Linked DNA regions of Homo sapiens. The protein of the gene in region 1 interacts with the protein of each later gene in a pairwise test. Each region holds a gene or a part of one and is shown on either strand. Other genes may lie near its edges.

Region 1 (7,032 bases):
CACATACCTATTGGCCACATGTATGTCTTCTTTTGAAAAATGTCCACTCAGGCCCTTTGTCTATATTTTGATCAGAACATTTGTTTTCTTTTCTTACTGTTGAGTTGTTTGAGTTCCTTATCTACTTTGGACATGAATCTCTTATCGTATGTATGTTGTGCAGGTATCTTCCTCCACTCCATAGGTCATCTCTTCACTCTGCTGTTTCCTTTGCTATGCAACAGCCTTGGGTTGGATGTAATCCTGTGTGTCTCTTGCTTTTGTTGCCTGTCCTTAGGGTCACATCGAAAAAGCCATTGCCCAGAGCAACGTTAGGGAGCTTTTCCCCTGTTTCCTTCCAGGAGGTTTATAGAAAAAGTCATTGCCCAGAGCGACGTTGGGGAGCTTTCCCCCTGTTTCCTTCCAGGAGGTTTATAGAAAAAGTCATTGCCCAGAGCAACGTTGGGGAGCTTTCCCCCTGTTTCCTTCCAGGAGGTTTATAGAAAAAGTCATTGCCCAGAGCGACGTTGGGGAGCTTTTCCCCTGTTTCCTTCCAGGAGGTTTATAGAAAAAGTCATTGCCCAGAGCGACGTTGGGGAGCTTTTCCCCTGTTTCCTTCCAGGAGGTTTATAGAAAAAGTCATTGCCCAAAGCGACGTTGGGGAGCTTTTCCCCTGTTTCCTTCCAGGAGGTTTATAGAAAAAGCCATTGCCCAGAGCGACGTTGGGGAGCTTTTCCCCTGTTTCCTTCCGGGAGGTTTATAGAAAAAGTCATTGCCCAGAGCGACGTTGGGGAGCTTTTCCCCTGTCTCCTTCCGGGAGGTTTATGGAAAAAGTCATTGCCCAGAGCGACGTTGGGGAGCTTTTCCCCTGTCTCCTTCCAGGAGGTTTATAGAAAAAGTCATTGCCCAGAGCGACGTTAGGGAGCTTTTCCCCTGTCTTCTTCCAGGAGGTTTATAGAAAAAGCCATTGCGCAGAGCGACGTTAGGGAGCTTTTCCCCTGTCTTCTTCCAGGAGGTTTATAGAAAAAGCCATTGCCCAGAGCGACGTTAGGGAGCTTTTCCCCTGTTTCCTTCCAGGAGGTTTATAGAAAAAGCCATTGCCCAGAGCGACGTTAGGGAGCTTTTCCCCTGTCTTCTTCCAGGAGGTTTATAGAAGAAGCCATTGCCCAGAGCGACGTTAGGGAGCTTTTCCCCTGTCTTCTTCCAGTAGGTTTATAGAAAAAGTCATTACCCAGAGCAACGTTGGGGAGCTTTTCCCCTGTTTCCTTCCAGGAGGTTTATAGAAAAAGTCATTGCCCAGAGCAACGTTAGGGAGCTTTTCCCCTGTTTCCTTCCAGGAGGTTTATAGAAAAAGTCATTGCCCAGAGCGACGTTAGGGAGCTTTTCCCCTGTTTCCTTCCAGGAGGTTCATAGAAAAAGCCATTGCCCAGAGCGACGTTGGGGAGCTTTTCCCCTGTTTCCTTCCAGGAGGTTTATAGAAAAAGTCTGCCCAGAGCGACGTTGGGGAGCTTTTCCCCTGTTTCCTTCCAGGAGGTTTATAGTCTCAGGCCTTACGCTTAAGTCTCTCTAGAATTCTTAAATTTGTGAACATCCCAAGAAGTGGAAGTAGGAAAAATGTTGAGCTATCAGTATATATGATATGGGTAAAGTGAAGTCTGTCTAGTTTACAGGAGGTTAATAAAATAATTTGAAAACTTATTTTGGCTGAAATTTTGTGCATTCTCTTTTGAGAAATAACTTTCTGTGAATCTGCTTTAAAGTAGAAAAGATGTTAATTTGCATTTCATCTCTTTTTATCTCCGCCCTATTCAATTTCTAGTTGAGATGCAAGTGAACAGTAAAATAACCAAATTTTAGTAAGAACAAGAGGCAGGACCAGAAATGATCTACAGGCTGCATAGTTAAGCTTGGAGTATTCAGAAGTGGACTATTTGTGTTTTGTGGTTTAAGACAAGAATTATTGGCTCTTTTCTGGATATAGCTGTGAGTTATTTATGAAATTATAGAAATTTTTTTGTTGAATGATAGAATTCAAAAGAATATAAAAAGAAAAATCACCAATAATCCTATAAACTGAAGATAGAAACTTTTTATACTTTTATTGTATTTTGTTTCAAACATCTCTCTTGGCATAAATACATATGTTTATGTATGTATGTGTTTGTGTGTGATTAAAACTGGATTATATGACATACTTTTTGAGGTTTTATTGTATTTTAACCTCAGCATCCAACAGAGGAAGTTTTTGAAGTTTTAAAGAAATGCCTCAGGTTCTCTGTGAAGAATCCATTATATGCTTTTTCAAAAACTGTTTTTCCCCCCAGGATTTTAAAGATATTTAGGTCGGGAAAAGCATACAAAATTAAACAACTGGAAAATGAGCTACAAACTACTGAGGTGGATGATTAATTCTGAGCACTCTGATAAGAGGGAGCAATTGTTACATAAAAGCAAGGTTTTGTAGGTAGGCAGTTGTAGTGACACAGAAAACAGCTTCTGGAGATAACATTTTAACTAGGAAAAGCTATCAGGCTTATTCATATCAACAGACAAAGCATCCTGTTAGCCCATATGGATATGGGCATAGGGAAGCTGGGAAAAATCTGCCTTTCTTTGCCGGAAATTCAGTGTTTCTGAACATAGAAAAAGAAGAAATACAGAAAGCGTCATTCAAAGAAAGGAAGCATTCACGTTCTTTTAAATAGCAAGGCTTTTCATGCCAAAATTGTGTAAGGGATTAAATGTTAGCCTGTATTCTTGTCTTGTCTTGGTTATCCATGACTTGGGAAAGCCATGCCAGTTGGTCCATGCCGCCATACCCTCATTCACCTAAGAAGAATTGGAAGTAACACTTTATGACTTATAAGGTGATTTTGCATCCCACGTAATACTTGTGCTAAATATACAAATTATTGATAGAATGCCTGGAGGAAGAGAATCTTTTGTATGGTTAACCTCACATACAGTGCATACAGTGGTAATAGATGCCACACCCCCAGATCGTTGGATTAGAGAATACACATTGATAACTGTAAAACACATTGGGAATGCTGGGTTCCTGAGGGACAAGATTGTGTTTATATTTCATTTCATGTCAGGTGTGGAATATTTTGGGGCCTGAGGCCTTGGCTGTACAGTGGAAACAAATGATGCTTCAGAGAGTCTGTAGTACAGAAAGCAGCATTTTATATTGTTTTATTTAGTGTTTTAGCAAACTAGACACCAGTATCATTGCCATGCTCTTTTTGTTATGAATCCTACTGTGTTAGCAATTGCATGGTTGGTTAGATTAATGTATAATAATGAGTCAGTGTTGGAAATGATGAGATTTGTCTCTTGTCTCTTTCTCTACAAAATTCTAATTTGTAGTAAGTAGCTCAGAACGCTCAGATTTGAATTACTCTGTTTATGCAAGAAGTCATTTATTAAATAAAGATGATGTTAGTAATTTTTAAATCAGTGGTTTGAGTCAGCTTTTTGGTTTGTAGACCAAAAAAGATTTAGTTACTTTGATGAAATGTACTCAACTACTCTCCAATTTTAAGTCAACTGCTTAAATTGTCCAGACATGTTATTTAAGGAATGGTTTCTATATTTGTTTATCATTGAAAGACATTAGACTATATATATTTAAACGTATAGTCAATATATTAAGCACAGAACCTTTCAATTATACAGGTGTCTTAAGAACCCCTGGTCCTGGAGGCTGGTGTTGTTAGTAATATTTAGAGCACTGAATTGTCCAACTAAGAAAAATTAAATTTTAACTTGATTTATACTCAAACATAGCTCTTAGAGAAATTTAAGGGATTTTCCTTTGTGCATGAAAATCTATCAAAAACACAGCCGTCTACCAATTAGATAAGAAGTAAAAAGGTAGTCTTTTAAAAAGACTAAAGCTTTTCTAAGCCAAAAATGAGGGGATTTTCTTTTCTATTTCAGTGTAAAACCTGTTCTGAGCCAAAAAAGATAACCAGTTCCTCTGCCATCTATGACAATCCAAATCTCATCAAACCAATTCCAGTGAAACCCAGTGAAAACCAGCAACAGCGTATACCTCAGCCCAACCAGGTACGGAGTTCTCTGCTTGTCATATTCAGTGTGTCTCTAGAATTCTTAAAGAACTTTGACCCAGAATATAGTCAGGGGAGGGCCTGGTGTTGTTGAAGAATGCTTTCAGGTAAACCCAAGAAAGCGGGATTTCAGAATACAGATTTTTTCATTATTAATAACTTACTCTTCCTAGAAGAGGGTTAAAGTTTTTACTTTTGGCATATACCACATTCTGTGCTAATCTCTTGTGAACTTGAACTCCTTAAAAGATAATGTATTTTTTAAAAAACAACAAGCCAGCACAGTGGCTCAAGCCTGTAATCCCAGCACTTTGAGAGGCTGAGGCGAGAGGATCATTTGAGGCCAGAAGTTTGAGAGCAGCCTGGGCAACACAGTGAGACTCCATCTCTACAGGAAAATTAGCCAGGCATGATGGCGTGCACCTGTAGTGCTAGCTGCTCTGGAGGCTGAGGCGGGAGGATCCCTTGAGCTTAGGAGTTTGAGGTTACGGTGAGCTATGGAATGCGCCACTGCACTCCAGCCTGGGCAAGAAAGCAAGACCATGTCTCAGAAAACAAAAACAAACAAACAAGCACCCTAGAAAACTAATAACATTGTCAGAGATGACAGAAACATTACCCATTGGGTCCATATTCTTCTGGGGTGGGTGGCTTCCCAAGGCCACCTGGGAGAACCACCAAGGACACAGAGTTGATTTGAGCACTTCTGAGCACCTCCTCTGTGCCAGATGCAGAGCTAGCACTGTAGACTGGGGTAGCTGCCGCCGAGAGCTCAGAGTCCAAAGGAATGGTATAAAACTCCTCTTCAGATATGATGACTTGTCACTGTCTTTGCAATCTAAATTAGAAATATTACAGCAGCTTTTGTGTTAGTGTATATATATATATATATACACTTCAGAATAGTACAGCAATGACAAAAATTGTCAATCTGTAGGTCCCATTAATGATTGTAAATATAATATTGCTGTGTCATTTTATCATGACTATGACTAATTAAAAAGATTTTCTTAAAGGAATTAGTTTATATCAATTTTGAAAATGAACATGGAGCCAAAAGACATAAAGACTAGTAATGAAAATCTTATATTGAATTTTTAAAGAAAAGAAGTCTTCTAATTTTTTAGCTTTCTTTTTATTGCTTGTTTTATGGAAAGTTTTTATTATATTTTAATAGCGAGACCTGAATATGTTGACTTTAAAATGAAGCTTGTGGTTTTTTTTCTTTCCTCTTTTATTTTTTTTTTTGAGACAGATTTCATTCCTGTTACCCGGGCTGGAGTGCAGTGGCACCATCTCAGCTCACTGCAACTTGTGTCTCCTGGGCTCAAGCAATCCTCCCACCTCAGCCTCCCAAGTAGCTGGGACTACAGGCGTGTGCTGCCACATCTGGCAATTTCTGTATTTTTTGTAGAGATGGGGTTTTGCCATGTTGCCCAGGCTGGTCTTGAACTCCTTAGCTCAAGCAGTCTGCCTGCCTTGGCCTCCCAAAGTGCAGGAATTACAGGCATGAGCCACTGTGCCTAGCCTCATGTTTTCTCAGTGCAACAATGCAGAAAGCAACAGAAGTAAAGAGCAAGAAGGAAGTAGCTTTGTAACTGGCTGGGCCAAGGTAGATTTTATGTATCCAAGGACTTTTTAAATCCTACCAGTATATATTTGAAAGGATCAAGTTAGATTTAAAGTCTTCCGTTTCTTTCCAGCCCTTGATTTCCATAATTCTGTGAAAAACTACTAGAAATTCTGAAATGCTTATATTCCTTTGTATTCTCATATTACTCTGCAGGCTTAGATGGGCTTCCTATTGAACAGATTGTTTATTTTTTTAGTGCATATAATTTCCTACCAAGGTGGTTCCCAATCTGTGAAACCCCAGGCCCTTGAAGATCTTATACCTGTTTTATCGGTCAACAGATATTAAAATATAATAACTGTTTTGGGGGTGCAAGGGGAGCATGCTGTGAAAATTTTTGACATTAAAAAGGGGATCTCATTTTTCAAGTTTATTATTATTATTTTTCATTCTCTCTAATCAATCCTTTGTAAATAGAATAAGTCATCAGATAAGTTATGTTTCATAGCACTTCCTCATATAACCAAATTGTTTGTAGACTCATGTCAGATATCTTTATTTTTTCCAGACCTTAGACCCTGAACCCCAACACTTATCCTTGACAGCTCTGTTTGGGAAGCAGGACAAAGCTACATGTCAGGAAACTGTGGAGCCTCCGCAGACTCTCCACCAGCAGCAGCAGCAGCAGCAGCAGCAGCAAGAGAAGCTTCCAATTAGGCAGGGGGTTGTACGCTCCCTGTCCTATGAGGAACCCAGAAGACACTCACCCCCCATTGAGAAGCAGCTCTGTCCAGCCATTCAGAAACTCATGGTCAGGAGCGCAGACCTCCACCCATTGTCAGAGCTGCCTGAAAACCGGCCTTGTGAAAATGGCAGTACCCATTCTGCGGGAGAATTTTTTACAGGACCTGTCCAGCCAGGGTCTCCTCACAACATTGGAACTTCTCGTGGTGTACAAAATGCTTCCAGAACTCAGAACCTGTTCGAGAAACTTCAGAGTACCCCAGGGGCAGCAAACAAGTGTGACCCTAGTACACCAGCACCTGCCAGCTCAGCTGCCCTGAACCGCAGCAGAGCTCCCACTTCTGTCACCCCTGTGGCTCCAGGAAAGGGTCTGGCTCAGCCACCACAGGCCTATTTCAATGGCTCCCTTCCACCTCAGACAGTAGGACATCAGGCTCATGGAAGAGAACAGTCCACACTCCCAAGACAAACACTCCCCATCTCTGGTAGTCAGACTGGCAGCTCTGGAGTGATCTCCCCTCAAGAGTTACTGAAGAAGCTTCAGATTGTACAGCAGGAGCAGCAGCTGCATGCCTCTAACCGGCCAGCCTTGGCCGCTAAGTTTCCTGTGCTCGCTCAGAGCTCTGGAACAGGGAAACCCTTGGAATCCTGGATCAACAAGAC
Region 2 (7,032 bases), on another chromosome or scaffold:
CTGTAGTCCCAGCTACTTGGGAGGCTGAAGCAGGAGAATCACTTGAACCCAGGAGGCGGAGGCTGCAATGAGCCAAGATCATGCCACTGCACTCCAGCCTGGCGACAGAGCAAGACTCCATCTCAAAAAAAAAAAAAAAAATCAAAAAATTAGCTGGGTATGGTGGTGTGTGCCTGTAGTCCCAGCTACTCAGGAGGCTGAGGCAGGAGAATCACTTGAACCTGTGAGGAGGAGGGTGCAGTGAGCTGAGATCATACCACTGCACTCCAGCCTGGGCAACAGAAAATGACCCTGTTTCAAATAAATAAATAAATAAAATTTCAGTAAATGAAAAGAAGTGTCATTGGGCTTCAATTGTATTTGGTTTACTTCTTTCTTAAAAATCTGAAACAAATGTGGCAAACAGAAATTGACAAATCTGCATGCTAGATTTTCGTGGGGTTTTTTTGTTTGTTTTTTGTTTTGAGACGGAGTCTCACTCGTCGCCCAGGCTGGAGTGTAATGGTGTGATCTCAGCTCACTGCAACCTCCGCCTCCTGGGTTCAGGCGGTTCTCCTGCCTCAGCCTCCCGAGTAGCTGGGAGTACAGGCGCCCACCACCACACCCAGCTAATTTTTGTATTTTTAGTAGAGATGGAGTTTCACCATGTTGGCCAGGCTGGTCTTGAACTCCTAACCTCAGGTGATCTGCCTGCCTTGGTCTCCCAAAGTGCTGGGATTACAGCTGTGAGCCACTGCACCCAGCCCTGCATGCTAGATTTAAAATGTATATATTTTCTGTACTTTTTATAATTTTAAAATATTTTAAATTAAATGTCTGTAATCAGTAAAGTTTTCAAAAATAAGTATATTTTATGTTTGTTCCTTCTGGGTCCTGGAAAATAATTTATTATGCCTCAAGCTATAGGTATATTTGCCTAGATATTTCCTTATCTCTGAGCTAAAAACATTAAGATGAGATTGATGGAGCCCATTAAAGCAAAGAAAAAAAACACACACTCATCACTGCTCTAAAATCTGCACAGGTTTTGAAAATAAATCTATTCATTAAGAAAAAGTTCAGAAAGTCTCTGTTTTTAAACCATACCTGGCCTTGCAATTCTGGTCTTACAGGATATGTACTTGGGTAAGGAGCCCTAGATCTCGCAGTAGAATTCCAATAGTTAGAATTGTAGCTAGGATATGGTGGCTGCTCCTAAGAAAAAAAGAAAAATAAATTCACTCTTAATAACATTCATACATCATTTTAAGATAGATTGATAGAGGCAGGTTATAAGGATTAAAAAAAAAAGCAATAGACAAAAAGCAATAAGCTGGGCACAGTGGCACACGCTTCTTGTCCCACTACTGCGGAGGCTGAGGTGGGTGGATCGCTTGAGCTCAGGTGATTGAGTCTAGTATGGTCAAGAGAGACCCCGTCTCTTAAAAACAAAAAATAAAAGAAAAAAGGGAATAGGACCCCAACTATAAAACTGCTAATTATTCAGTACATGGTAAATCAAATGCTCTATGACAAAACAATTATTACCTAGTAAAAAGCTGTTCTTATCTGTTTCGACAATGCCACCACACCAAATGCTATATAAAGGAATTCTACTACATCAAGATGATTAGCAAAATCAGAGACATTAGATCACCTCTATCCTTCTCCAATAACTAATCCTCAAGACTACTAATTTAATTAGTGCAACAAAATGGTTCTTTGCTACTGTTATATTTACCAATAACTTTGGAACACAAAGACATTACTACTAGAGTTTCGCTCAAGCACATACATCTTCAATCTCCAACTTCTTTGCCTTGACACACCCTAGTTTTTCATATTCTACTCTGTGCTATGGCTAAGCTTTCCGCTGGCAGCCTCAGTGTCAGGCATTGATGCAGAACATTTACCAATCCAAAGAGAAAATCTAGCTACGACAATAATTTCATCAGCCTTTCTCTCCAACTCAGAAAGTTAACGCATGATTTGCAATAAGCCAATAAACTTTGATAAAAGACTAAATATACTCAAAACTTCTCAGAGCACCTATTATCTGGTTTATTACATACATTTATTATCCTATGAGTTATTTTGCTTTCAACTGTATAGATTTAGGGTTTTTTTTTTTTTTTTTTTTTTGAGACAGAGTTTCGCTCTTGTTGCCCAGGCTGGAGTGCAATGGCACGATCTCGGCTCACTGCAACCTCCGCTTCCCAAGTTCAAGCAATTTTCCTGCCTCAGCCTCCTGAATAGCTGGGATTACAGGCACCTGCCACCACGCCCAGCTAATTTTTTGTACTTTTAGTAGAGACCGGGTTTCACTATTTTGGCCAGGCTGGTCTTGAACTCCTGACCTCAGGAGATCCACCCGGCTTGGCTTCCCAAAGTGCTGGAATTACAGGCGTGAGCCACACTGTGCCCGCCCAAGTATAGTTTTAAGCTTGAACAGGACCTTCGACATTTTTTCTAAAACTTTGAATATGATTTCACAAAGAAATTCATTGGCAGCTGAAATAACTGAGAGATTATCACTATTAGCTTAACTGCACTACTTATCCATTTCATAATACTTTGTTTTCAGTAATACTTTGAATTTTTTTCAGTAATCATAATTATCAACACTGTTGGTACTGTTTGTTATCTTGGTACTGTTATGCGGGTATTATAGTTGCAAATGAATACTTACATTGGTATTGTTGGGAATCAGTATTTTCACAATGGGAGATAGGAGACACAGATATAAGAATAATGAAACTTAAAACCTTATAATCCTTAATTTGAATTGTAAATATCAGTATGAATTCAAACTGTATTTTATCTTCTTTAAAAAACCACCAACTTGGCCAGGCACAGTGGCTCACGCCTGTAATCCCACCACTTTGGGAGGCCTGACGCGGGTGGATCACCTGAGGTCAGGAGTTCGAGACCAGCCTGGCCAACACGGTGAAACCCCGTCTCTACTAAAAATACAAAAATTAGCTGGGTGTGGTGGTGGGTGCCTGTAATCTCAGCTACTCAGGAAGCTGAGGCACGAGAATAGCTTGAACCCAGGAGACAGAAGTTGCAGTGAGCAGAGATCATGCCACTGCACTCCAGCCTGGGCCACAGAGCAGAGACTCCGTCTCAAAAAAAAAAAAAAAGACAACCCACCAACTTGGGCTGGGCGCAGTGGCTCAATCTGTAATCCCAGCACTTTGGGTAGCTGAGGCAAGAGGATTGCTTGGGGCCAGAGACCAGGAGTTCAAGACCAGCCTGGAAAATAATGAGACTCAGTCTTTACCCAAAAAAAAAAAAAAAAATGTCAGGTGGGCGTGATGATGGGTGCCTATAGTCCCAGCTACTCAGGAGGCTGAGAGGTGAGAGGCAGAGGCAAAGTCCAGAAATTCAAGGTTATGGTGAGCTATGATCTATGATTGTGCTACTGCACTCCAGCCTGGGCAACAGAGTAAGACCCCATCTTTAAAAAGAAAAAACCTACTGACTTGATAACCACACACAGAATATAATTCAAATAATTCTTGAACAGTTTTCTGAATGGACATCTTTAGTGGTACCTTTCTAAAAGCAAAAGAAATTTAAAAATATCTTAAACTCTTCATATAATGTTATTAGTAGTGATATTACTATCTTAATTTTTAAACTATATTGTGTGTATTGTAGAATAGAATAAATACATACAGTAGTGTTATTGGGAACCGATATTGTCACGAGGACAAGGAAAGATAAAATATGGAATGGGGCAAAATGAGGAAGAACTGGGGGATAGTGAATGTGGTGGTGTCATTACAAACTCACATAAGTAAAAAACATAATTTGGCTGGGTGCAGCGGCTCACACCTGTAATCCCAGCACTTTGGGAGGCCAAGGCAGGTGGATCACGAGGTCAGGAGATAGAGACCATCCTAGCTAACACGGTGAAACCCCATCTCTACTAAAAATACAAAAAATTAGCCAGGTGTGGTGGCGGGCGCCTGTAGTCCCAGCTACCTGGGAGGCGGAGCTTGCAGCAAGCCTAGATCACGCCACTGCACTCCAGCCTGGGCAACAGAGGGAGACTCCGTCTCAAAACAACAACAACAACAACAAAACGTAATTTAACCTTTTATGCAAAACAAACAAATATGGATAAAAGTGACAGTGTGCCAGTCCACACAAAGGATTTAGGAGTCGCTGCAAATTCTAGCAACCCTCTTGTGTTCCCATGCCCTCCACAAGACCTACATTATCTTATATGGGAGCTGTGTTTTCAACTGAAGTCCCAGGATGAGAAGACACACAGGTAGACCTGAACTGAACCTGGGGCCTAGAGAAGAACCACTAGAGTGGACTCACAGAACCTGAGCAAGAAATAAATGTTTATCATTATAAGCTACTAAAATTCTGGAATTGTTGTTTCAGTATAGGAAAAGTCAATTAATGCAATAACTAACAATCAAGTTGGTAACATAACCACAGAGAAAAAAGAATTACTTCAAATGACTTTTAGCTCACGTTATTTTGACTGTACGTCCTCAGTGGAATTTATTCTCTAAGGACAAGCTGAACTGCAAAGAAACCGAAACTGCATCCATTAGTTGTTACTCATAAAACTGGTATTCTTATTTTCAAGTTTTACTCACTACCATCCAATTCACCTATTTAAAGTATATAATTCAGGCCTGGCATGGTGGCTTACGTCTGTAATCCCAACACTTTGGGAGGCCGAGGTGGGTGGGTCACTTGAGGTCAGGAGTTCAAGACCGGCCGGGCCCACATGGTGAAACCTCGTCTCTAATAAAATACAAAAATGAGCTGGGTGTGGTGGCGGGCAGCTACTCAGGAGGCTGAGGCACGAGAATTGCTTGAACCCAGGAAGCAGAGGTGTAGTGAACTGAGATTGCACCACTGCACTCCAGCCTGGGCAACAGGGTGAGACTCCATCTCAAAAAAAAAAAAAAAATTAGCCGGGCATGGTGGCACACACCCGTAGTCCTAGCTACTTGGGAGGTTGAGGCAGGAAAATTGCTTGAACCTGGGAGGCGGAGGTTGCAGTGAGCCAAGATCGTGCCACTGCACTCCAGCCTGGGTGACAGAGCAAGGCTCCATCTCAAAGATAAACAAATAAATAAATAAAAAGTAAATAAAAAGCTGATATTAAAGTAGCCACTCCAGCTTTCTCATAGTTGCCTTTTGCATATTTTTATATATATATACATATATATGTATACATGTATATATGTATACATGTATATGTATACATGTATATATGTATACATGTATATATGTATATATATGTGTACATGTATATATATGTATACATGCATATATATATGTGTATACACGTATATATATGTATTTATATGTGCATATATGTAATTTTTAATTAATAAAAGTAGTACATATTTTTGGGATACATGTGATATTTTGATACATGTATATAAAGTGTAATGATCAAAACAGGGTAACTGGCATATCTGACACCTCAAACATTTATCTTTTCTTTATTGCATTATATTTCTTTTTCCATCCATTTACTTTCAAACTATTTGTATCTTTAAACCTTAAGTGTGCCACCTTTAGACACCATATAATTGGATCTTGTTTTTTTTTTAATCCAGTCTGTCTTCTGACTAGATTGCTTAATCCATGCACATTTAATATTATTGATATAGCTGGATTTACATGTTTTATTTTTACTTTTTGTTTTTTATATGTCTCATGTGTTTTTGTCCTTTATTCCACCTTTACTGCTTTCTTTTGCATTAAGTGAATATTTTCAAATGTAGCATTATAACTTAATGATTATACTTTTTTTTTCTTTAGCAGTTACTCTTGGGCTAACAATACACTTCTTCTTCTTCCTTTTTTTTTTTTTTTTTTTTTTGAGACGGAGTCTCACTCTATCACCCAGGCTGGAGTGCAGTGGCACGATCTCGGCTCACTGCAAGCTCCGCCTCCCGGGTTCATGCCATTCTCCTGCCTCAGCCTCCCAAGTAGCTGGGACTACAGGCGCCCGCCACCACGCCCGGCTAATTTTTTTTTTTTTTTTTTTTTGTATTTTTAGTACAGACAAGGTTTCACCATGTTAGCCAGAATGGTCTCGATCTCCTGACCTTGTGATCTGCCCACCTTGGCCTCCCAAATTGCTGGGATTACAGGCGTGAGCCACAGCACCCAGCTGGGCTAACAATATGCTTCTCATCAGAATCAGCTTCTGATTTATACCAACTTAATTCCAGTGAGATACAGGAATGCTATTCCTATATAAGTCTGTTCCTTTTCCCCTTTTTTGTGATTTTATTGTAATCCACATTATGTCTACAAATGTTACAAACTCAACATTATATTGTTATACTTATTACTTTATATAATGTCTTTTAAAGAATCTGAGAAGAAAAGAGCATATTTGCATCTTTTGTTATATTAACCTTGTTATTAATCATTTCTGATATGCTGGTGTGTTCAATGGTGTCTGACACTTCTCCAACACATCAGTCTTTTTTCTCTCCTTCATATTGCATAATCTGTATTGATCTATCTTCAAATTCATGAATTCTTTCTTCTGTCAGTTCTAGCCTATTGAACTCCTCTAGTTAATTTTTCATTTTAGTTACTGTACTTTTCAACTCCAGAATTTCTATTTGTTTCTTTTTTAATATATAATTGCTATCTCTTTATTGATATTCCCTATTTGACATGACATTATCACACACCTTTCTTTGCTTCTTTAATCATAGTTTTTTAGTTATTTGAACATATATAATGGCTACTTTGAAGTCTTTGTCTATTAAATGTGACATCTGGTCACTTTCACAATCAGTTTCTGTTACCTGCTTTTTTTCCAGTGTATGGGTCATACTTTCCTGTGTCTTTGCATAGCTCATAATTCTTTGTTGGAAACTAGACATTTTAGCAACTCTGAGTACTACTGGTCCCACCTTTTCCACCTTAGGCTTGTTATTGTCATTTGCTCATTTGTTTAGTAACCAGCTGGATTATTTTTGCAAAGTCTGTTTGCCCTCAAACTTCAAGTATGAAGTATGTGATATTGCTCATTAGAAGGCACAGCCT

What was found. The genes of interacting proteins can lie anywhere in the genome.
Region 2: the proteins of DCP1B (region 1) and BAG4 interact in binary tests that used the Homo sapiens proteins (3 or more experiments, as listed by UniProt).

Annotation. Positions count from the first base shown.
Region 1 is NC_000012.12:1,952,450-1,959,481, reverse strand, and holds part of DCP1B (mRNA-decapping enzyme 1B), read left to right. Parts: intron 1-3,921; coding exon 3,922-4,050; intron 4,051-6,193; coding exon 6,194-7,032. UniProt on the Homo sapiens protein: May play a role in the degradation of mRNAs, both in normal mRNA turnover and in nonsense-mediated mRNA decay. May remove the 7-methyl guanine cap structure from mRNA molecules, yielding a 5'-phosphorylated mRNA fragment and 7m-GDP.
Region 2 is NC_000008.11:38,186,850-38,193,881, reverse strand, and holds part of BAG4 (BAG family molecular chaperone regulator 4), read right to left. Parts: intron 1,195-7,032; coding exon 1,087-1,194; intron 1-1,086. UniProt on the Homo sapiens protein: Inhibits the chaperone activity of HSP70/HSC70 by promoting substrate release. Prevents constitutive TNFRSF1A signaling. Negative regulator of PRKN translocation to damaged mitochondria.